Regions from separate parts of the Homo sapiens genome. Here region 2 is linked to region 1. Evidence: fine-mapped expression QTL. A gene starts in region 1. The other region holds a variant in brackets. All regions are shown on one strand. Distances are from middle to middle. Region 1 holds the start of RNPEP (arginyl aminopeptidase). Region 2 overlaps NAV1 (neuron navigator 1).

What was found. PIP is the estimated chance that this variant, and not a neighbour inherited with it, causes the effect. A credible set is the group of variants that fine-mapping cannot tell apart.
Region 2: its variant is the best candidate, but not a certain one, in a credible set for the expression of RNPEP in whole blood (INTERVAL, PIP 0.83).

What each region holds. Positions count from the first base shown.
Region 1 is chr1:201,976,272-201,987,261 of GRCh38, reverse strand. RNPEP (arginyl aminopeptidase) reads right to left here and starts at 4,614. Exons shown (of 11, transcript NM_020216.4): 1 at 4,149-4,614. The coding sequence starts at 4,595. It overlaps SNORA70H (small nucleolar RNA, H/ACA box 70H), which reads right to left and starts at 8,801; the gene lies at 8,667-8,801. It also overlaps the pseudogene RPL10P4. RefSeq lists silencers at 1,138-1,312, 4,029-4,708 and an enhancer at 4,919-4,978.
Region 2 is chr1:201,625,553-201,636,542 of GRCh38, reverse strand. NAV1 (neuron navigator 1) reads right to left here. Exons shown (of 34, transcript NM_001389617.1): 4 at 7,036-7,139. It overlaps LOC124904482 (a long non-coding RNA gene), which reads left to right. Exons shown (of 2, transcript XR_007066789.1): 1 at 1-6,184. Among named protein-coding and RNA genes, the nearest start is that of MIR5191, 88 kb to the left of the region's middle. RefSeq lists an enhancer at 7,605-8,106. The variant C/T (reference allele first, on the strand shown) is at 5,472.

The sequences.
Region 1 (10,990 bases):
TCTGGCTGGACCTTCAAAGACACGCAGGATTGAGATGGCTGGAAAGGAAGGGAGGAGACATTCACAAGGAGACGAGCAGCAACATGAGGAGAGGCATAAACAGATGCAGGCTCCAGATGCAGAGTTGGGGAGGCAGGCCTGGGCAAGTCTAATGAAGGGTTCTGAACACAGCAGTGTCTGAGACCTATTTTAAGAGGCATAAGGAAGCTACGTTGGGATGCTGGGTTTGAGTTTTTGTGTGTGAAAAATTTAATTAGTCTCCTTATAACAGGTACAGTGCAGTATAGAAAGGGATGAGAGAATAACTTCACAGTGGAGAAAGCTGATAATCACTGCTTCAGCCAGGGGACCGAGGTTAACGCTGACAGTCATAAATCATGTGGATACTATGCGCCCTCAATACCTGATGAAAATGGCACTTTGGCTGGGCGCAGTGGCTCACACCTGTAATCCCAGCACTTTGGGAGGCCGAGGCTGGTGGATCACCTGAGGTCGGGAGTTCAAGACCAGCCTGGCCAACACAGTGAAACCCTGTGTCTACTAAAAATACAAAAATTAACCAGGGTGGTGGCATATGCCTATAGTCCCAGCTACTTCGGAGGCTGAGGGAGGAGAATCGCTTGAACCAGGGAGGCGGAGGTTGCAGTGAGCCGAGATCACACCACTGCAGTCCAGCCTGGGTAACAAGAGTGAAACTCCATTTCAAGAAAAAAAAAAAAAAAAAAGAAAGAAAATGGCACTTTACCTCTGTGAATTGCCCCTCAAAACCCATAATCCCAATCTAATCATGAGAAAACATCAGATAAATTCCAATACAGGGTCATCCTACGCTATACCTGGCCAACACTCCTCAAAACTGTCAAGGTTGGCTGGGCTCAGTGGCTCACACCTGTAATGCCAGCACTTCGGGAGGTCAAGGCAGGAGGATCGCTTGAGGCCAGGAGTTTGAGACCAGCCTGGGCAACATAGGGGGACCCTGTCTCTACAGAAAAAATAAAAATAAAAAAATAAAAAACAAAAAACTGGCTGGGAGCAGTGGCTCATGCCTGTAATTCTAGCACTTTCTTTGGGAGGCCAAGATGGGAGAATTGTTTGTTTGAGCCCAAGCGTTTGAGACAAGCCTGGATAACACAGTGAGACCTCATCTCTACAAATAATAAATTCAAAAAATTAGCTGGGCGCAGTTGTATGCGCCTGTAGTCCCAGCTACTTGGGCTGAGGCAGGAGGATCACTTGAACCAGGGGGATCAAGGCTGCAGTGAGCCATGATTGTGCCACTCACTGCACTACGGCCTGGATGACAGAGCAAGACCCTGTCTCAAAAAACAAACAAACTGTCAAAGTTATATCAAAAACAAGGAAAGTTTGAGAAACTGTCACAGTCCCAAGAGGATACATGACAGCTAAATATAATGTGGAATTCTGGATGGCTTCCTGGAACAGAAAAAGACATTAAGTAAAAACTAAGGGAATCTGAAAAAACTATGGACTCCAGTATCGGTACTGGTTTATTAATTATAACAAATATATTATTATACTAATGTAAAATGATTCAATCTTGGTTAATAATATATCAGCATTGTTTAATTGTAACAAATGTGTCATACTAATGCAAAATGGTAGCAAGAGGGGAATCTGTGTGTATATGTGTATGTAGGAGGTACTGAACTGTATATGGGAACTCTCTGAACTGGCTGCTCAATTAAGCCAGGCATGTTGGCTCATGCTTGTAGTCCCAGCACTTTGGGATGCCAAAGCGGGCAGATGGCTTGAACCCAGGAGTTCAAGACCAGCGTGGGCAACATGGCAAAACCCCATCTCTACAAAAAATAACAAAAATTAGCCAAGTGTGGAGGTGGCAGGTCTGTGGTTGGTCCCAGCTACCCCAGCTACTCAGGAGGCTAAGGTGGGAGGATCACTTGAGCCAGGGAGGTCAAGGCTGCAGTGAGCTGAGATGGTGCCACTATACCAGTCAATAAGAATTGATCAATTGACTGATCATTGAATGCCATCAGTCAGTGATGTTTTTACTGATCAGCTAGGAAATGAGTATTTTTTTTTTTTTTTTTTAGATGGAGCCTCGCTGTGTCACCCAGGCTGGAATGCAATGGCATGATCTCAGCTCACTGCAACCTCTGTGTCCCAGATTCAAGCGATCCTCCTGCCTCAGGCTCCCAGGTAGCTGGGTTTACAGGTGTGAGCCACCACAACCAGCTAATTTTTGTATTTTTAGTGGAGGTAGGGTTTCACCATGTTGGCCAGGCTGGTCTCAAACTCCTGACCTCAGGTGATCTGCCAGCCCTGGCCTCCCAAAGTGCTGGGATTACAGATGTGAGCCACCACACCCAGCCTGGAAACGAGATTTTTAAAAAGAACAATGTAGGGAGCTTTTTGATCCCTTCTCAAAAAAAAAAAAAAAAAAAAAAAAAAAAAAAAAAAAGAAAGAAATACAAAAGTTAGCAGTAAGAGCTAACACAGCTTACTTACCATGTACCACGCACCATATTAACCACTTATGGAAAGACAACTCATTTAACCTATGTCAAGCACTTAGACTAGTGCCTGGCTCATCTTATTAAATATTAGCCATCATCCCCCCTCCACCAAAATTGCTTACTCATCATCTTTGCTTTTTTGTTGTTGTTGTTAAAACAGGGTCGCACTCTGTTGCTCAGGCTGGAGTGCAGTGGTGTTATCAGGCTGTGAAAGGAAAATCTCTTGGGCCCCCAAAATCACTAAAGAAAACTCAACCTGGGAACCGCTTAGGGCACACCTGCCTCCCATTCTATTCAAAGCCACTACTCTGCTCACTGAGATGGATGCATATCTGATTTGCTTCCTTTGGAAAGGCTCATCAGAAACTCAAAAGAATGTAACCATTTGTGTATCACCTATCTGTGATCCGGAAGCCGCTTCAAGTCTTCCTGCCTTTGCTGCAAGTTGTCCCACCTTTTCAGACCCAACCAATGTACTTCTTACATATACTGACTGATGTATCATGTCTCCCTAATGTATAAAACCAAGCTGTGGGCCGGGCGCAGTGGCTCACGCCTGTAATCCCAGCACTTTGGGAGGCCGCCGAGGCAGGCGGATCACGAGGTCAGGAGTTCGAGACCAGCCTGACCAAAATGGTGAAATTTTGTCTCTACTAAACAATACAAAAATTAGCCGGGTGTGGTGGCGCACGCCTGTAGTCCCAGCTACTAGGGAGGGTGAGGTACGAGAATCGCTCGAACCCACGACGCAGAGGTTGCAGTGAGCCGAGATCTTGCCACTGCACTCCAGCCTGGACGAGAGTGAGACTCTGCCTCAAATAAATAAATAAAAGATTAAACTGTAAGCAAGCAGTTTACTATGAAACTTGCAACCAACTCTACCTGAGAGATAACTGGCAGCCACAGCCTAAGGACTCTCCAGGAAGGATTTTCTGACTCTTACAGACATAAGCCACATAACTCCATCCTCTTATTTCCAATATTTGCCCCGTCCCGAAAAAAAATTAAAGAGTTAACCAACAGTGAGAAGGCCAAATTATTATAATGCTTATAGCACCCTAATTCCAGTTCTCACTTTTACTCAAATTCTTTCGTTAATCAAATCCAGGACTTCACAGGAGGAAACAAAAACAAAGATAAGAGCTTTAACCGTGGAACTAGAAGGCAACACAGAACAAAGAGCTAGATCAACATCTGGCTAATTCTAGAGCCACCATAAAGCAGAGATAAGGTGGCTGATAATCAGGTACCTCGGCCCAAAAGTCCAAGAGGGCACTAAGTGAAGTGCATGAACAACAGGTCATCTAGAAAGCCACGGAAAATGTTAGAAACGGCAGTGTGCGATGAGCGGGAATGCGGCGCAATCTGGACAAGCCTCCAGGGCCAGGGAGGAGACGCGGAAGGACGGAAAGGGTGAAGGATGCACCGCCCAGTGGCTGGAGGAAGTCCAGAAGGAAACCAGGCAGCCCGGGAGGAAAAGAGGAAGCAAGGGGAGGAGGCCTAGAGGCGGCGCGCGGGGAGTAGGCCCCTCTAGGGACGCTCTGGAAGGGTCCTCCCTGTCCCTCCTCCCGGGTGGGGTAGGTGAGGGTGCAGGGCGGCTGGGGGCCGGAAGGGCAGGCAGGCAGCGGCGGGCGCAGTCTGGGGCGCACTCACCCCGGGTCCCTCCCCGACGCGGTAGGTGAGCAGCACCTGGAGGCGCTCGGCGGCGCGGCAGGGCTGCGGGAAGGACACGCACAGGGCCTGGCCATAGTGCGAGAAGGGCTGCGTGTAGAAGCTCACGGGCTCCGCAGGCGGCTCCTCCGAGCCGGGCCGCTCCCGCCGCAGCGCCGCCGCCGTCACCTCCAGGCACGGGTGCGAGTCCAGCCGCAGCTCGGCGGCGCCCTCGGGCTCCAGGCAGCGCAGGTCCAGGACCGCGGTGCCGCTCAGCCCCCGGCTCCCTGCGCCGGGCCCTGGAGGCCCGAACTCAGCCCGCAGGTCCAGGTGCAAGTGCAGCAGCTCAAAGGCCCGGAAGTTGGAGGCCGAGGCCACGTCCACAGCCTGCGCGGAGTGCAGCGGCCGCCGGGCCGCGCCGCTGCCGGGGGAATGCTCGCCGCTCGCCATGGCCGCAGAGCCGTTGCTCACCGGCCGGGCCGCGAACCCGAGGGGAGCCCCGCCCCGAGCGCCGCGGGCCCGCCCCCGCCGCGCGGGCCCCGCCCCCGAAATCTGCTCCCGACCGCATCCCCTCCCTGCGCTTTACCGCCCACTCTTCTAGCTGCACCCGTGCCTCGGGACTTAGGACAAAAGAGGCCGGTGGGATCGTGTGGCCCACGTTTGCCCACCCATATCCTACTGAGGTGTTCCAGTCGTCCCGGTGGGGCACCCTTCTCTGCTGACCCTTCCTGCTGCCTCATCTAGGCAGTGGCGTGGACTGAGCCCTGGCTGGGAAGGTCTGAGTTCCAGATCTCACACCCTGCGATAGGCCAGTTGTTAGAACTGTGTGTCACCTTGGGCAAGTCGCACAAGAAACATGAATCTTCCCGAGCCTTTTTCTGCACCAGTATAATAGAGTCATAATATCTGTGTATCTCACGAAGTAATGTGAGAACTCTACCAGGTAACCTGTCTAACACACTCAGCAAACAGTGAAACCCTGCACAACTTCACGGAATTCACACTGGATCGAGCCTCGTCCCCCAGCAACTCCAGGCACGCCTATCTTTCTATTGTTGGGTTAAGGGACAGGAATCAGCACCGCGCAATTTAAGGCCTGGCTGTCCATCGCATGTCACTTCTATTTCCCTTACTGTATTGTACCGCTTATTGAGCTAGGGTATTCTCCGCTGAATACTTTGTTTCTCTTCTGTACCAGTGGGTTGCAATGGGCCTTCTATGAATAGGAGCTAATCAATGATGATGTTTTTACCGTTCAGCTAGGAAATGAGATTTTTAAAAAGAACAATGTAGGGAGTTTTTCATTAAGGGAAATAGTATTCCGTTCTGTGCTTCCTAGTTTTGTAGAGTTGAAATTATTTTATTTCATGAAATAATGCTTATGGTAGATAATGACTTTAATATTCCATGTAAGTTCAATGTCAGGGTTTTTTGTTTAACTCCAGAAACCTTAGAAACCTGCTTTTCTGTAGCATTGAGAACAGCGCTTGGTACATATTAGACGTTGAATACTCCTATCTTGAAATTATTCAGTCTTCGATGCAATGCACTTTTGCTGAGTATCTGCTAGACACCAGTTGTTAAGCTAAGTGCCTGGGGTACAGTTTGAATAAGTCCGGCACAATTCCTCTTCCTATGGTGTTCATAGCCTAACTCACATTTTAGCAGACGCACAAGAAAACAGGTCACGACACTTCCACGTGCTGCGCTTGATACGGGAAGAAAAGGATGCTGGGGAGCACAACGAAGAGATGCCTAGCCTGATCCTTCTAGTTAAATATTGACAGAGGAAGAGGATGTCATCCTTAGCTAAAGGGTAAAAGATTTTAGGCTGGGTGTGGTGGCTCACGCCTGTAATCCCAACACTTTGGGAAGCTGAGGCAGGAGGATCGCTTGAGCCCAGGAGTTCAAGATGAGGCTACGCAACAGAGGGAGACCCCCTCTCTACAAAAACATTTTAAAAAATTAGCTGGGTGTGGTGATGCACACCTGTGGTCCTGGCTACTCAGAGGATGAGGTAGGGGTATTGCTTGGGCCCAGGAGGTCAAGGCTGCAGTGAACCATGATCATACCACTGCACTCCAGCTGGGGCAACAGAGAAAGACCCTGTCTCAAAAAAAAAAAAAAAAAAGATTTTAGGAATTATATTATTTCCCCTTATAGCCTTACTTCTTCCTGGGAATACCAGGAACCTCATTTCCACTTCCGCCTCCCTGCATGGCTCCCACACTGTCTAGTTTGCCTCAGAACTGGCCTGTAGATGGCCTGTAATAACTTACAGTGGAGAGATTCAGGAATTCAGAGAATTCAGGATTGTAGAAAGGGGACACTGTGGGCACAGCCCACCTCTCCCCCAGTTCATTTTCATTATTTATTATTTATTTGTGAATGCTTAGAATGCAACATATGTTGGACATTTCAAAATAATGGCCACAAATTTTCCATTCCTGATTCTATAGATTTAAAAGTTACAGGGCCGAGTGCAGTGGCTTATGCCTGTAATCCCAGCACTTTGGGAGGCTGAGGCTGGTGAATCATTTGAACTCAGGAGTTCAAGATCAGCCTGGCCAACATTATGAAACACCATCTCTACTAAAAATACAAAAAATTAGCCGGGCAGTAGTGGCACACACCTGTAATCTCAGCTACTCGGGAGGCTGAGGCAGGAGAATTGCTTGAGCCTAGGAGGCAGAGGTTGGAGTGAGCCAACATTGCGCCACTGCACTCCAGCCTGCATGACAGAGTGAGACCCTGTCTCAAAAAAAAAAAAAAAAAACAGTAAAAAGTTACAATAAATTATTAGCAAAAATAAAAATAAAGCTACCTATAGACATGTTTTAGTTAAATTGAAGAAAACCAAGACATAAAGATCTTACAGCAGTGGAAGAAAAGAGACAGATTATCTACAAAAGAATGGCAATTAGAAATTGGACCAAGGTGCCAGGTATGTTGGCTCACACCTATAATCCCAGCACTTTGGGAGGCCAAGGCGGGCGGATCACCTGAGGTTGGGAGTTCGAGACCAGCCTGACCAACATGGAGAAACCCTGTCTCTACTGAAAATACAAAATTAGCCAGGCATGGTGGCGCATGCCTTTAATCCCAGGTACTCCGGAAGCTGAGGCAGGAGAATCACTTGAACCTGGGAGGCGGAGGTTGTGGTGAGCCGAGATCACGCCATTGCACTCCAGCTTCGGCAACAAGAGCAAAACTCCGTCTCAAAATAAGAAATTGGACCAAGGGCAGACCTCTCATTAGCAACATACAAGCTGGAGACATTATCTTCAAAATACTGAGAAAAAAAAGCCAACTGTCAAATTGGAATTGTATACCCAACTAAACTATTATTTGGTCATGTGCAGTGGCTCAAGCCTATAATCCCAGCACTTTAGGAGGCTGAGGCAGGAAGATCTCTTTAGCCAAGGAGTTCCAGACCAGCCTGGGCAACACAGGGAGACCCTGTCTTTATAAAAATAAATAAAATTAAAAATGAACTACTGTTAAAAAGTAAGGGAAAACAGATTTTTAGATAAAAATTGAGAGTATTTACCATCCATAGACTCCTAACGAAGAAATTCTAAAGGAATTCTTTTTTTTTTTTTTTTTGAGATGAAGTCTCGCTCTTGTCCCCCAGGCTGGAGTGCAATGGTGCGATCTCAGCTCACTGCAACCCCCGCCTCCCGGGTTCAAGCAATTCTCCTGCCCCAGCCTCCTGAGTAGCTGGGATTACAGGCGCCTGCCACCATGCCTGGCTAATTTTTGTATTTTAAGTAGAGACGGGGTTTCACCATGTTGGCCAGGCTGGTCTCGAATTCCTGACCTCAGGTGATCCGCCTGCCTCGGCCTCCCAAAGTGCTGGGATTACAGGCGTGAGCCACTGTGCCAGGCCAGGAATTATTTCAAGAAGGAAAGGAATCACTGAAGGAAAGAATGAGATGCAAAAAGGAACAGTGAGCAAAAAAAGTAGATAAATTTAAACAACTGTATAAAACAACACTAATAATATACTAATAATGTTTATGTGAGGGAATCAGGATAAAACTAAAATAACAGACTAAAAGTACATAAGAGAGAGGGGTAACTGAAGTTAAAGCATTTTTTTTTTTAGGTGGACAGAAAGTAGAATTTATTGGTGAGTATTAAGAGGGGGCAGCACAGTGGAAGCCCTCATGAGTGCAGGACCCGCCACTTGTCCAGAGGGCCATGATTGGGAATGTACTTGACCCATCTGGGATGAGCCGCTTCTCAGCCACCATGTCTTCAAATTAATTGGCATTGAACTTGGTGAAGCCCCATTTCTTTGAGATGTGGATCTTCTGGCGGCCAGAAAACTTGAACTTGGCCCTGCGCAGGGCCTCAATCACATGCTCCTTGTTCTGCAGCTTGGTGTGGATGGACATAACTTGGCCAATGTGAACCCTGGCCACAGTGCCCTGGGGCTTTCCAAAGGCACCTCGCATGCCAGTTTGGAGCCTACATTGGGGTAGTGTAAGGTCAGAAACATGAACATCCATCTGAAAGGACTGTCTCCAAGGTCCCTTAGAGCAACCCATACAACAAACAGGCTGCATACACTACCAAGGAAGCTGCTATTTACAGCCATTGCACACTGGGCCCCCATGAGGAAAGGAACTCAGTCGGCTTAATTGGCTGCAGGAAGTTAAAGCATTCTAAGCTCCTTGTATTATCAGATGGAGAGTAGGGATAAATGTGAGATCTTAAGTATCTGTATTAAAGTTTTAAAGGAAACCACTTAAGTAATATAAATTGAAGACAGTATATAACTCATAAGCCAATAAATGGGGAAATATGTAGTTTAAAAAAAAAAAGCAAAAAACTTGGCCGGGCACAGTGGCTCACACCTGTAATCCCAGCACTTTGGGAAGCTGATGTGGGCAGATCACCTGAGATCAGGAGTTTGAGACCAGCCTGGCCAACATGGTGAAACCCCATCTTTACTAAAAATATAAAAATTAGCCCGGTGTGGTGGCGGTAATCCCAGCTACTCAGGAGGCTGAGGCAGGAGAATCACATGAACCCGGGAGGCGGAGGTTGCAGTGAGCTGAGATTGTGCCACTGCACTCCAGCCTGGGCAACAGAGTGAGACTTTGTCTGAAAAAAAAAAAAAGGAAAAGAAAGAGTAAGACAGGATATTATTACTTCAAATCGAGGAGGCAGAAACCTGGGATGGTAAGTAGTTCACAAATACCTAGGTATAATTCACAAATACCTAGGTATAGTTCACAAATACCTAGGTATAAATTGCTTGTTAATGTTCTAGCTCACATGTTGGAGTATTATCTGTCTAATAATACAGTCTCAAAACAAATAAAATAAAAATTGGCTGAGCGCAATGGCTGATGCCTATAATCCCAGCACTTTGAGAGGCCGAGGCAGGTGGATTGCTTAAACTCAGGATTTTGAGACCAGCCTGGCCAACGTGGTGAACCCCTGTCTCTAAGAAAAATACAAAAATTAGCTGGGCATGGTGGTGCATACATGTGGTCCCAGTTACTTGGGAGGCTGAGGTAGGAGGATCACTTGAGCCCAGGAGATCAAGGCTGCAGTGAGCCGAGATCATGCCACTGCACTCCAGCCTGGGCAACAGAGCAAGACCCTGTATCAAAAAATAAAAAAATTAACAGAACACAAGGGAAAATGGACAAATTCACCAACAGAGTAAGAAACGTTACATGCCTCTCCCAGTAATTAAAGTAATTAACAGATCAGGGAATACTTTTTTTTTTTTTTTTTTTTTTTAGAGATGGAATCTTGCTCTGTCACCCAAGATGGAGTGCAGTGGCACAATCTTGGCTCACTGCAACCTCTACCTCCCAGGTTCAAGCCATTCTCCTGCTTCAAGCCATTCTCCTGCCTCAGCCTCCCAAGTAGCTGGGATTACAGGTGCGTGCCACCACGCCCAGCTAATTTTTGTATTTTTAGTAGAGATGGGGTTTCGCCATGTTGGCCAGGCTGGTCTCGAACTCCTGACCTCAGGTGATCCACCTTCCTCTGCCTCCCAAAGTGCTGGGATTACAGGTGTGAATCACTGCACCTGGCCTTTTTTTTTTTTTTTTTTTTTGAGACAGGGTCTTGCTCTGTTGTCCAGGCTGGAGTGCAGGGGCATGATCTCGGCTCACTGCAATCTACACCTCCAGGGTTCAAGCAATTCCTGTGCCTCAGCCTTCAGAGTAGCTGGGACTACAGGCATGTGCCACCATGCCTGGCTAATTTTTGTATTTTTTAGTAAAGACGGGGTTTCACCATGTTGGCCAGGCTGGGTGCCTTTCTAACTCCTGGCCTCAAGTGATCCACCCATCTCAGCCTCCTAAAGTGCTAGGATTACAGGCGTGAGCCACTGCACCCAGCCTGTATTTCTATTTACTAGTAATGAACAATGAAATTTGAAATTTAAAAACCGATACCAGGCTGGGCACAGTGGTTCATGCCTATAATCCCAGCACTTTGGGAGGCCGAGGCGGGTGGATCACCTGAGGTCAGGAGTTTGAGACCAGCCTGGCCAACATGGTGAACCCCCATCTTTACTAAAAATACAAAAATTACCCAGGTGCAGTGGCAGGTGCCTGTAATCTCAGCTATTCATGAGGCTGAGGCAGGAGAATCGCTTGAACACAGGAGGTGGAGGTTGCAGTGAGCCAAGATCACACCACTGCACACCCCAGTCTGAGCGAAGAGCGAGACTAGGTCTAAAAAAATAAAAACAAAAAAACCCCCACAAAAACAACAACAACAACAAAAAACCACCAAAAAACCCAATACTATTTACAAAGCATTTCCTAAAATGAAATATTGAGGTTTAAATATAACAAATTATATGCAGGACT
Region 2 (10,990 bases), 350 kb after region 1:
CTGAAGCCTGGGACTCCCACCACCCAGGAAGGCAAGTTTTTTATTCCTTCCGCCCTTTTAAAGGATGAATATTGTGGCTGGGGTAATTCTCAGCACTTAATCTCTCTGGCTATTGTGTCTGTGTCACCTCTCTCTTCAACTGCCTCTCTCCAGAGCTCCTTCTGTGTAAGCCTGCCCGCAGCCTTATAGTGGGGAGGGAAGTCTCTCACCAGGGGACCCTAATCCTCTTACAAAGGGGTTTGGGGGGTCTTGGGATGGTGTGTTCCAGTTTCTGCCCATTCAGTGGTGCTGGAGGGAGACTTCAGCCTTGGCCAAGACTGGCATGGAGCCAGCACTTCTTGAGATAAAGCCCCCTCTGCAGGCTCTCTGTCTGCCCTGGGCCTTCCCAGGGAGACAATAGTTCAGAGTTATAAGGAGGGCTGGCCAATCTCTGCCCAGGCATGGGGCAAAGATCTGAGGGGCCAGATCTTCAGAGCTGCACTGGAGGTGAGGCTTACCTGGATTGGCCAGAGAAGTAGGGAGCAGCAGTGGTGGAAGTTTAGCAAATAGTTCCGCCTCCCATAGCTGAAACTTGTAACTGCTCCACAGCTCCCTGGATAACAACCTCTAAAGCTGTATGGAGCAGTCTGAGCTGGAGAGATTCCTGTCAACCAGGCCACCTCTCCTTCAGTGTCCTTTTTCCCAGAACCTGTCCATGGCTCATAGACACATGGAGAACTAAACAAGGGGTTGGGATTTCCTAGGAGGAGCTGAAGCAGATCGCTGCAGGTTGGAGAGTGGAGTCTCTAAAAATCTGCTAAGAGGCTGCCAAGTCAAGGACAGGTAGGTATTGGGTATAGGGGGTAATTCTCTAGGAAAACTACAGGGGAAAGTTTATCACCTTCCTCATCTATTCAAGCACTCAGGGCGAAGGGGGGTGGCCCACAGACTGCTGTTGCTTATAGTCCCAGGAATGTCATGAGGCCAAAGCTCTGCTCCTGCTCCTTAGGGTGGGAGACATATTCCAGAGCTGGGGCTTCTCCAGGGCCACCATGTAGATCACGTACAGCTGCACAGGTTGTACACTGCACAGCTCTAGGCTACATCATAAAGGGCCCACAAGTGTAGAAGTCTTTGCCTATTTTGTCCACAAATGTATTCCAAGCTTCTAGAATAACACCTGGAACACAGTAAGTGCTTTATAAAAAATTGGCAAATGGGTTGGGTGCAATGGCTCACGCCTGTAATCCTGGCACTTTGGGAGGCTGAGGCGGGCAGATCGCGAGGTCAGGAGATTGAAACCATCCTGGCTAACACAGTGAAACCCCGTCTCTACTAAAAATACAAAAAAAAAAAAGATAGCCAGGTGTGGTGGTGGACGTCTGTAGTCCCAGCTACTTGGGAGGGTTAGGTAGGAGAATGGCATCAACCCAGGAGGCGGAGCTTGCAGTGAGCTGAGATCGTGCCACTGCACTCCAGCCTGGGTGACAGAGTGAGACTCTGTCTCAAAAAAACAAAAAACAAAACAAAACAAAACAAAAATTGTCAATTGGATATGAATTTCCTCTGGAGTTGGGCAATGCAGAGGTCCTGGTTTTCTTGGTGCAGCGAGAAACAGGGAAGCTGGGTCTTGCCAAGATTTCTTGATTTCTGGGACCACAATCAGGATCTGGAGAGCAAGGGATTTGTACTATATGTGGAGCACTCATAGTTGCAAAAACCACGTAGAATCACTCACACACCTTTTAGAGTGGGAGGGCCTGAGTCCAAGGTAGCCACGGGGAAAAGAGGCTCCAAGCTGACCAGCTTCTGCTATTCTTGCCACTCCACTGAAATGGCTAACATTGGGTCAAATCCACTGCCTTGAGATAAATCCCCTTCCCAGCCAAATATTGTCTTGAAAAGTCAATCTCCTCCCTCCTCCTGTACTCCTCTAAAGAAATAGCATCCAGACTCCTACAGTTTCTATTTCAAACCCCTCCAGCAGGTACCTCGGATGACCTTACTTATCTGGCCTCTTCCTTCATAGCCCCTCCCAGAGCCAGGCTGGTGATCCCACTGCCTCTCCTGGCCTCCCTGGGAGAACTCCCAGACTTGAGTCATCTTCCCCTCCAGTGAGGTCATAGAACGTATGGTTAAGAGCATGACCTCTGAAGACCAGCTGCATGGGTTCAAATCCTGGCTAGACCACCTTGGGCAAGCCACTTAACCTGTCTATCCCAGTTTCCTCATCTGCAAAGTGGGTGTGATAATAACATCACTTGCCTCAATAACAAATAACACCAAACACATATTGAGCAGTTCTTATGTATCAGCCATTCTTCTAAGCGCTTTACCAATATCCATGCATTTAATTCTCACAAAACCCTATGAGGAAAGCACTGTTATCATCCCTGGTTACAACCAAGGACACAGGGGCACAGACAGACTAAATAAGTTCCCCAAGGCTGCATAGCTAGCAAGTGAGGAAGCTGTGATGCAAGGCAAGTAGGGAGTTAGATTCCAAACCTCATGCAGTTGTTAGAAGGATTAAAGGTGCTTATAACAATGCCTGGTTCACAGTAAGCCACGGTAAGTGTCGGCTGCTGCTACAAGTGCTATTATGACCTCCCGTCCCAGTTCCTGGAAGCCTACCAGGTCCTAGATTGCTGCTTTGTTTATCCAACAGAGTCTCCAGAGACCCTCGCACTCCCAAGCCACCTCTGCCCCACAACAGCACCAACCTGCTCAAGCTCTGAGAACACGGCTAATATCATCTGCCCCTGAACTGTTTCTACTTTCTAGTCAATTGTCTGCATGTCTTCTCTCCACAGATGACTGGGACATAAGGCTCATCTTGGCCTGGAGGTCCCCAGAGGGCAAAGAACACAGCAGTGTGAACTCAGCATGAAATGACATAGGTTTGGAGTGACAGGGATGCCAGTGGCATCCTGGGACCTGCTCAGATTGAGGGAGATGTGAGCAGGGACTGTGGCTCACTGATCCCATTTCCTTCCTCATTGCTTGGCAGAGGCTAAGGGAGACTGAGTTGAGCTTGGACAGTGTGCGACTGAGTGAGTACTGGCGGCAGTTGGGAAGGCAGGGAGTAAGAGAAGAGTGTGGCCTTTTGACAAGCCTGGGATGGAATCCTGGCACAGCCTCCTAGCTGGATGTCCTCAGACAGGTTTTATATAACCCTTCTGAGCCTGAGTTTCCTATCCATAACACAGAGTAATAATAACACCTTCAAAGGATTATATAAGGTATTCATGAAGGACTTTATGTAAAGCACTTGGCACTATGCCCTGCACATAGTAGGGTATTCAATAAGTGATAGTCATTATTACCATTTAGTTCTTTTTAGTGTTTAAGGAGTCAGAAAGCAGTGGTCCTGGTTTAGTTCACCTGCTAACTTCCTATGCAGTCCTGAGCAAGTCACTTCTCTTCTCTGAGTCTCATCTCTCCCTCATTGAAAAGGAGGCCAAATTTGGGAGATCTATAAAGTTTGTTAGAGCTTTGACTTCCTATGTTCTTTGATGCAAGTCATTTGTAGTCCAGGAATACTTGGATTTGGTTTGAAACCCCCAGAACAAACTTCTCTCCCAGAGAGTAGTTACCATTCCTTGCTCCTGCCCCAGGCACACTAGCTTTGCAAGTTCTCTTAGAATGAATACTCTATTCCTGCTCTATTTCAAATCCATAAGGCATGAAAAACTTCACTGTGGCTTAAAGATGGAGCCAGCTCAACAAGGGAGAAGAAAGAGGAAGAAAAGCAAAACAGCCCTAGTATGAGGCCAAACTCCACACTGCCCCACCCATTCTCTCTATATATCAACCCTCGTGTGAGAAGGAGGCAGGGAGGAGGCTCTGGCTTTTTCCTGATAACACGTACTATGATGAGAAAAAGATCCCTTCATTGTGGGTCCACTTAGTGCTCATTCAAACATGCCACAAAGTGGAAGTCATTAAAGAATCTGCATAAGCCTTGGGGCAACCTTTCCCAGTCCTCCTGCACACAGCCTCACACATGTGGGCACGCGGTAACGTCAGCCTTGGCTTCTCTTGGCTGTCCAAATTAAGATCTGATGGTGGTCTATACACTACCCAGTGCTGACTGCAACCAAAGGGAGAGTCAGCAGATGGGACCAGTGCTGGGCTGTCACCAACAGAATCAGATGGGCCAGGGAGGGTCAGGGCACATGTACAAACATCAGTGGGCTGGGCATTTCCACACTTGCCCCAGGGCAGAGGCAGAAGGAGCAGCTGCTGGTGGATGGCCTTCAGGATATATGAAGAACATCCCCAGTGCCCCAGGTTGGAGGCAAGTCATCATGGGAAATTCTCCTGCTATATAAATACTAGAAAGCCTTGTTTGGACTCTATGCCCAGAGTCCAAGCAGATTAAGAAAGTGGCACAAGGCTGAGAAAGCTCTTTGGCCTTCTCCTGCTCCGCTCAAAGACTCTGCACTCACCCCCCAAACCCATTCAGTGAGCTTGGAAGACAGAGAGAAGCACATTGGGAAAGGAGCAGAGAAAGACTGGTTGGTCTTTCTCAGCTGGTAGAGAAGAAACAGGCTGATAGAGGACAAATTTTAGAGCTCTACAACCACTTACATTGGATTCCTTACTCATTCATTCAAATCATACCTTCACCAAACCCTGACCGCCAGGCACTGTGCTAGGTGATGGGGGGCAAGATGAGTTCATGGTCAGGAAGGGAAGATACATGAGCTTCAAAAAAAAGCCCCCAAACCCCCAGCCATCTACAAATTGATATGGAAATAACATGATCAATAACTGTCAAATAACTATGCTGGATTCTGTGAATTATATAAATATTTGATGGAGTACTCTCCAAAGCACCCAATTATCCTTCTATAAATGGGATAATAAGCTCAGTGCCCTCCTTATGCCATGGGGCCTAGCGAGGGAGGCAGGACTGACTGGCTGCCTTGTCAACCCCTATAGGGGCAGGTCACTGGGCACAGCTTCTGGGATCCCAACAAATTCTCTAGATAAGTCTCACTGGAGTGAATCCCTGGGCTGTGAACATCTTGAAGGCAGGTCAAAGTCTTATTTGTCTTTTACCCCAGTGTCAAGCACAGTGTTCAGCACAAGGCAAACACTCACTGATGGTTTGTAGATTGAATGAAAGAATACATGAATGAATGAGTCATGTCATGCCCCAAGTGACTTTGGGAGTGAGAGGGCAAGGCATAAAATGAAATCCTTCAGTTGCCTCCTCTCTTCCTCTCTTCTCTGTTTTCTTCAAGCTCAGAAGAGCGCAGGCTCTTCCACAAGGCAGGCAAATCCGAAATCTCTCTCCCCATCCAACCCATCAAAGAGCTCGGCGTATCCTCGGCAGAGATGGGTCACCATGACAACTAGCTAGCACCAGAGCAGAGGCAGTGCAGTGAACCCTGCTCCTCTTCCCTAGGAGCCTTGGAGAAAGCCAGTGTTTCTCACTTTTCTGGTAAAACCCTCCTCCAAATGTTCCCCGGCACTCTGTCCCC[C/T]CAGAGGTACCCAACCGTGATCTAGCAGACAGTTTCACATCTAACCAGTGAGGGTGGTCTTCCAGCTGACAAGCCTGGGGGATTCCTAATGCTAGTCTGCAACAGACGTTAAAAGTAAAAGACCTCTCATCAACTCATCGGATAATAATCGTGAACGAGCGCTGGGTTAGGTGCATGGAGATCATTAGGCTCTAACAATGTGGCATCCACATGAGGAAGCCATTACACTAACAAAACTGCAAATGTAAAAATAGAGCTCCACATAGTTTCCTGGTTACCACATTCTAATTCTGATGGCTTTTCGGTGCCAGAGAAATTTGGTTTCCTTTTGTCCCCTGCCATGCCCTGGTTCTCTTGCATGTATATTTATTGTGGAAGGAGATGGCTTGCTTTGCAAATGCTGAGTCCTTAACCCATAACCCTCCTCCACAAGGCTTGTCATGGAAGAATGAGTGTTGCTGCTCTGTTTTTAGGGTTGCAGTGGCTCCAAGATCACTGCTATAGACCAGGCCTAGAAAGGGCTCAAAAGGTCCCAGCTCCCAGGCCAAGAAGGGATATCTGGCCACCTGCCCAGCAGGGCACAGAGAAGACAGAAGCAGTATACCATCCTGTCCGGTGATCTCAGGGTCAGGCTGTGTTCTAAGCCCCAGCTTGGCCCGCTGGAGCAGGGCACCAAGACAAAGCTGGGAGACAAGCCCTCTGGACAATCTCAGGTTTGTGAAAAGGAAATTTATTACTTTGTTGAGGCAAGTTTCCCTTTGTCTGGGAAAGTAAAGGATTGACCTGGTTCCCTGCAGTGTGCAGCCTCATGTACCCCTGGTGTGAATCATAGCCATCCTCTAGATACTTTTTTAATGTTGTAGGAAAATCAGCACACGTCCGTAAGTGCTGCTGAGTTTTGAATCTGACCCACTTAGGGCCTGACCTATGGTACCCAAGACACTCACTCATCCATGCATCATTCATTTATTCAGAGACACTGAGCACCTGAAGATGCATCTGAGACTGTCAGGGTCTCTGCCCTTATTGAATATTGCTGTATTTGAAATTTAGGGATCTTCCTGGTGAATCTCACATGCCTGAGCCTCAGGTGATATCTCATGACTACAGGATGACACGGGGAAGGGGACATGTGTGGGAGTGGCCTGTTAAAAGTGGTCCTGGAAGGGGAAGTGTTGTCAGGCAGCAAGCCAGATGGCTCTGGCCTGCCTCCCTAATTCCAGCACCTTCATTTTTCAACCTGGGCACCACTCAGAACCTGGCTCTCACTCCCAGCTTGTTACCTTTGTGTCAGGACTTCTCACATGACACACACATGCAGTGACTCCCATAGCCTGGGCATCCCCTGGCCACTTCCCTATGCTGCCCCTAAAAGGCTCCTGGGTTTGATGGACCAACCCTGGGTTGAGTCAAGCATGATGAAAACTCAAAGTGCAATTCACAGGTTGATGTCTCCTTGTCAAGAGATGGACCCATCCAGCCTAGGTCACTTCTTCTTCCATCTAGGCAGCTCTAGCACAGTGGCCTCCCGACCCTAGGAGGAAGTCTCCCCCAGATCACTTACCCATGCAGGAGAAGCTCTCCTCAGTCTCATGGAGGGGCTCAGCATAGCCATCAAGGGGCCAGCTGCCCTGGGAGAGGGGGCCAGGTTTCTGGTCAGTTTGCAACCTGTGGGACCAAGAAAGGGTAGTCACTCATGGTAGAGATGTCCTGGTCTCTAAGCCCCTCCATGGGGCTAAGAAAACCCTCTTAGAACTTGGTTCTTCTTCTCTGATAGTGCCCTGCACCACTCAGGGCCAGCCCCTCCCTGATGGGTATGTGCACATGCCTGCCCTCCAGCAGGCAGCAGGCCTTCTGTGCAAAGCTGCGCCAGGCAGGGAGCCCCAGAGGATACTGGGATGCCCGATGCTTGTCACCCCTTGACATTCTACAGTCTACCCATTTCCCAGGAACGTTATCACTTATAGGGCAGAGGGATACCCTAGCAACTCCAGGCCTTGGGTCCTTTGTCTTGCCAGGATCCTTGCCCTCAGGATGAGCATGTATGTACAGCCATGTACATATACACAGGGAAGAGCTCCCTCTGAAGCTGAAGTCACTGATTCCTGGTAGCTCAGGGGGCACACAGGCTTTGGGCTTGCTCGTAGTCCAGGCAGCTTGTAGGTCAGGAAAGAAGGAGGAGTAGGCTCAGCTGCAATCACAGTGACTCCCGGGAGGACAGGTCTCTTGCTGGGCCCGTTGTGGTAGCAGGAAGGAAGGGTGAGGTCTCTGGGCACCAGCTCCCAAGTGCACACAGACCTCTGAGCACAACCTCAACCGTACAGTTGCTCCCAGGAACAAAGGCTGTGGGAGCTTTCATTATAGGCAATTACCCTAGGCTCTGGGAGCTGGCCCGCCCACCCATCCGCCCGCTGTCTCCAGCTAAATGGAGACTTTGGCAGCTTGGCAGGAGGGGGAGGGGAGGGCTGTGCAGGCAGGAGGGGAAATTGAAGGGCTGGGCCATGGAACCCTGAGAGTCTCCAGTGCCACTGAGATTTGTCTTTCTCTCTCTCCAGTTTTCACTTTTTTCAATGCCTAGATGGCCGGGACTCTGGGCTCAATTTTGCCATTAACTCACTGTATAACCTGGAGTAGATCTCTTCTCCTCTCTGGGTCCGGCTTCCATCATGGGGTGAAAAGATGCCCCTCAAGGCTGGGATCTGTTTTACAGTCTAGGGTTGTGAGGTGTTTGCTGCTTCTGCTCAGCTTTTTCTAAGCTATTTAGGCAGTGCTGAGCTCTTTTGTATCTCAGGCCCCTCAGGTGAATGATGGGGATAGTGCAGGGTGGGGTGTCGTTAGAGAAAGCAGGAGGCCTCATCCTGGCCCCTGGGGGTGCTTGGTATGATGGGGACAATCGCCATGTACTACTGTCTCTCTTTTTTTTTTTTTTTTTTGACACAGGGTCTCACTGTGTCACTCAGGCTGGAGCACAGTGGTATGATCAAGGCTCACTACAGCCTTGATTTCCTGAGCTTAAATGATCCTCCCACCTCAGCCTCTCAAGTAGCTGGGATTACAGGCTCAAGCTACCACGCCTAGCTGATTTTCATATTTTTTGTAGAGATGGGGTTTTGCCATGTCGCCCAGGCTGGTCTCGAACTCCTGAGCTCGAGATCTGCCCACCTCAGCCTCTCAAAGTGCTGGAATTACAGGTGTGAGCCACTGCACCAGGCTCTTATTGTCAATTAAATGTCTGTCCAAGTACACAAGTGCCAAGGGGATAAAGAAAGACTGGGGTTGGTTGGTTTCTTGGAAGAAATTAGAATGGACCTGGGATTTTGAAGTAGGGGATGCAACATATTGGTGAGAAAGTAACAGAAAATTCTACTGGGGAGAGGGAATTCTATATAATGTGTCAACTGTTTCATTGATTAACATCATATATGTAAAGAGCTAAGCACAGCGTCTGGGCCAGAGCAGGTATGCAATAACCAGTGTTAAAAATAAGAATAGGCAGACGGGTGCAGTGGCTCATTTCTATAATCCCAGTACTTAGGGTGGGGGGGCCGGGGCGGATGGATCACTTGAAGTCAGGAGTTTGAGACCAGCCTGGCAAACATGGCGAAACCCCGCCTCTACTAAAAATACAAAAATTAGCCAGGCTTGGTGGTGCATGCCTGTAATCTCAGCTACTCGGGAGGCTGAGGCAGGAGGATCGCTTGAACCAGGGAGGTGGATGTTGCAGTGAGCCGAGATCGTGCTACTGCACTCCAGCCTGGGCGACAGAGTGAGACTCCATTTCAAAAAAAAAAAGAAAAAGAAAAATAGGAATAGGCCAGGGTGGTGGCTCACAACTGTTAATCCCAGAGCTTTGGAAGGCCGAGGCAGGAGAATTGTTTGAGCCCAAAAGTTTGAGGTTACAGTGAGCTATGACTGTGCCACTGCACCCCAGCCTGGGGAACAAAGCAAGAATCTGTCTCCAGTAAATAAATTAAAGACTAAAAACAAAAAAAGAAATAGTTACAGTCACGATTGTTGCTGCCATTAATATGATGCAAGAGTGGGTGAGGTTACATCAGTCATATGGGCCAGAAACTCCAATGGCAGAAACATTGAGGAAGGCAGGCTTTATCTCTAATTTCAGTCAGCTCTGTATTTTTATCCACATCTGCCTCCATCTCTCCAAACATGGCCAGGCCTCCATGTCCGCCCTCACTTCTCAGCCTGAGTGGACAGCACTCTGTATGCCAGAAGTCAGGCAGAGGTTGAACCAGAGAGAAGAAAATTGCAGTAGTGACACCAGTAACCCTACGCTCCTGATACCATTAACCATAGTTCCAATTGAAGTCCAACCCAAGGCCCACCCAATGCAGGAAGAAGAGAACTGTTGGGGGTTAGGGAGGTGGTAAAGGGTGCACTGGCAGTTGGGAAAAGTCAGCAAGGGCTGTGGTGAAGCTGCTGTGGCTCTCTTCCAGGATAGCAGAGAGGGATGAGGTTGAGGATGTGATGGAATTAGATGTGTGAGACCAGGGTCTCCTGAGAGCGGACAGGGGATTGCACCTTCTCTGGGTCCAAAGGGAAGTGATGGATGAGAGGAGACAAGCTTCACTGGGAAGGCCACACCAAGGCCCTTGAAAAGAGAGGGCTGTGGAGGATGGGGCAGGGGAGAAGATGGCTGCAAGATTCATTCCCTGGAGAAGCAGGTCAGGCATGACCAGGCTGGAGATGGGGAGGGAAGCAGGTGACCTCTGCTTCTGCATTCCACTGGGGCTTTGCAGAAGGCTGAGGTGCTGGGGCGGGTGGCAGGGAGGGAGGAGAGATTTCCACAAAAACACAATGTCTGTGGATTCTAGGAAGCAGATGGCACCTCCTTGGCTATGAAGCTTTGAAGGGTGGCCCAGCCTGGCCCTTGGCAGAGCTGCCATGGCAGCAGCTCTAGGCCCTGCAGAGTGTGCTGGGTGCCTGCCCATTGGCGTGCAGCATCTCGGAGTGTCCTTGGTCCTAATCGCACCCTTGAGCCTCAAATCTGTCTTGAACTAACTTCTAACCACCATGGTGATGAGTCAGGTCTTTGTGCCATGACCCTCTCTCCAACCCTAATCCAGAGACTGAAAGGGGCAGGGTCTAGGAGGTAGGGTGGTGTGACACATTTCCATTTCTGTTTAAAATGCAAACATGCAATAAATGTTTGCTGAATGAAGGAAACATGGTTCTGTTTAAGCTGCATTAAAATATTTGAATGAAGAATTCTGAGCTCTTTGGAAAATGTCAGGTTCTGAATATACCAAGGGACTTGTAAGGTAGATAATGTAAAATCTTAAACAATTTAATGCCTAGACACTTTTCCCAAAGAATGAATTCAAAATGAAGGGAATCAGGTAGGAGAAGAAAGTCAAAGAGTCACCAGGGAAACATTTTACTAATTGGAAAAAGGCCATTCAAAGGAAGGCCTGCCCTGCATTTCTGCTTCTTGAGTTCTCTCATCAGCTTCAGAATCGAAGTAAAGAAAGTCACAAGGGGACGTAAGTGAGTTGCCCCTT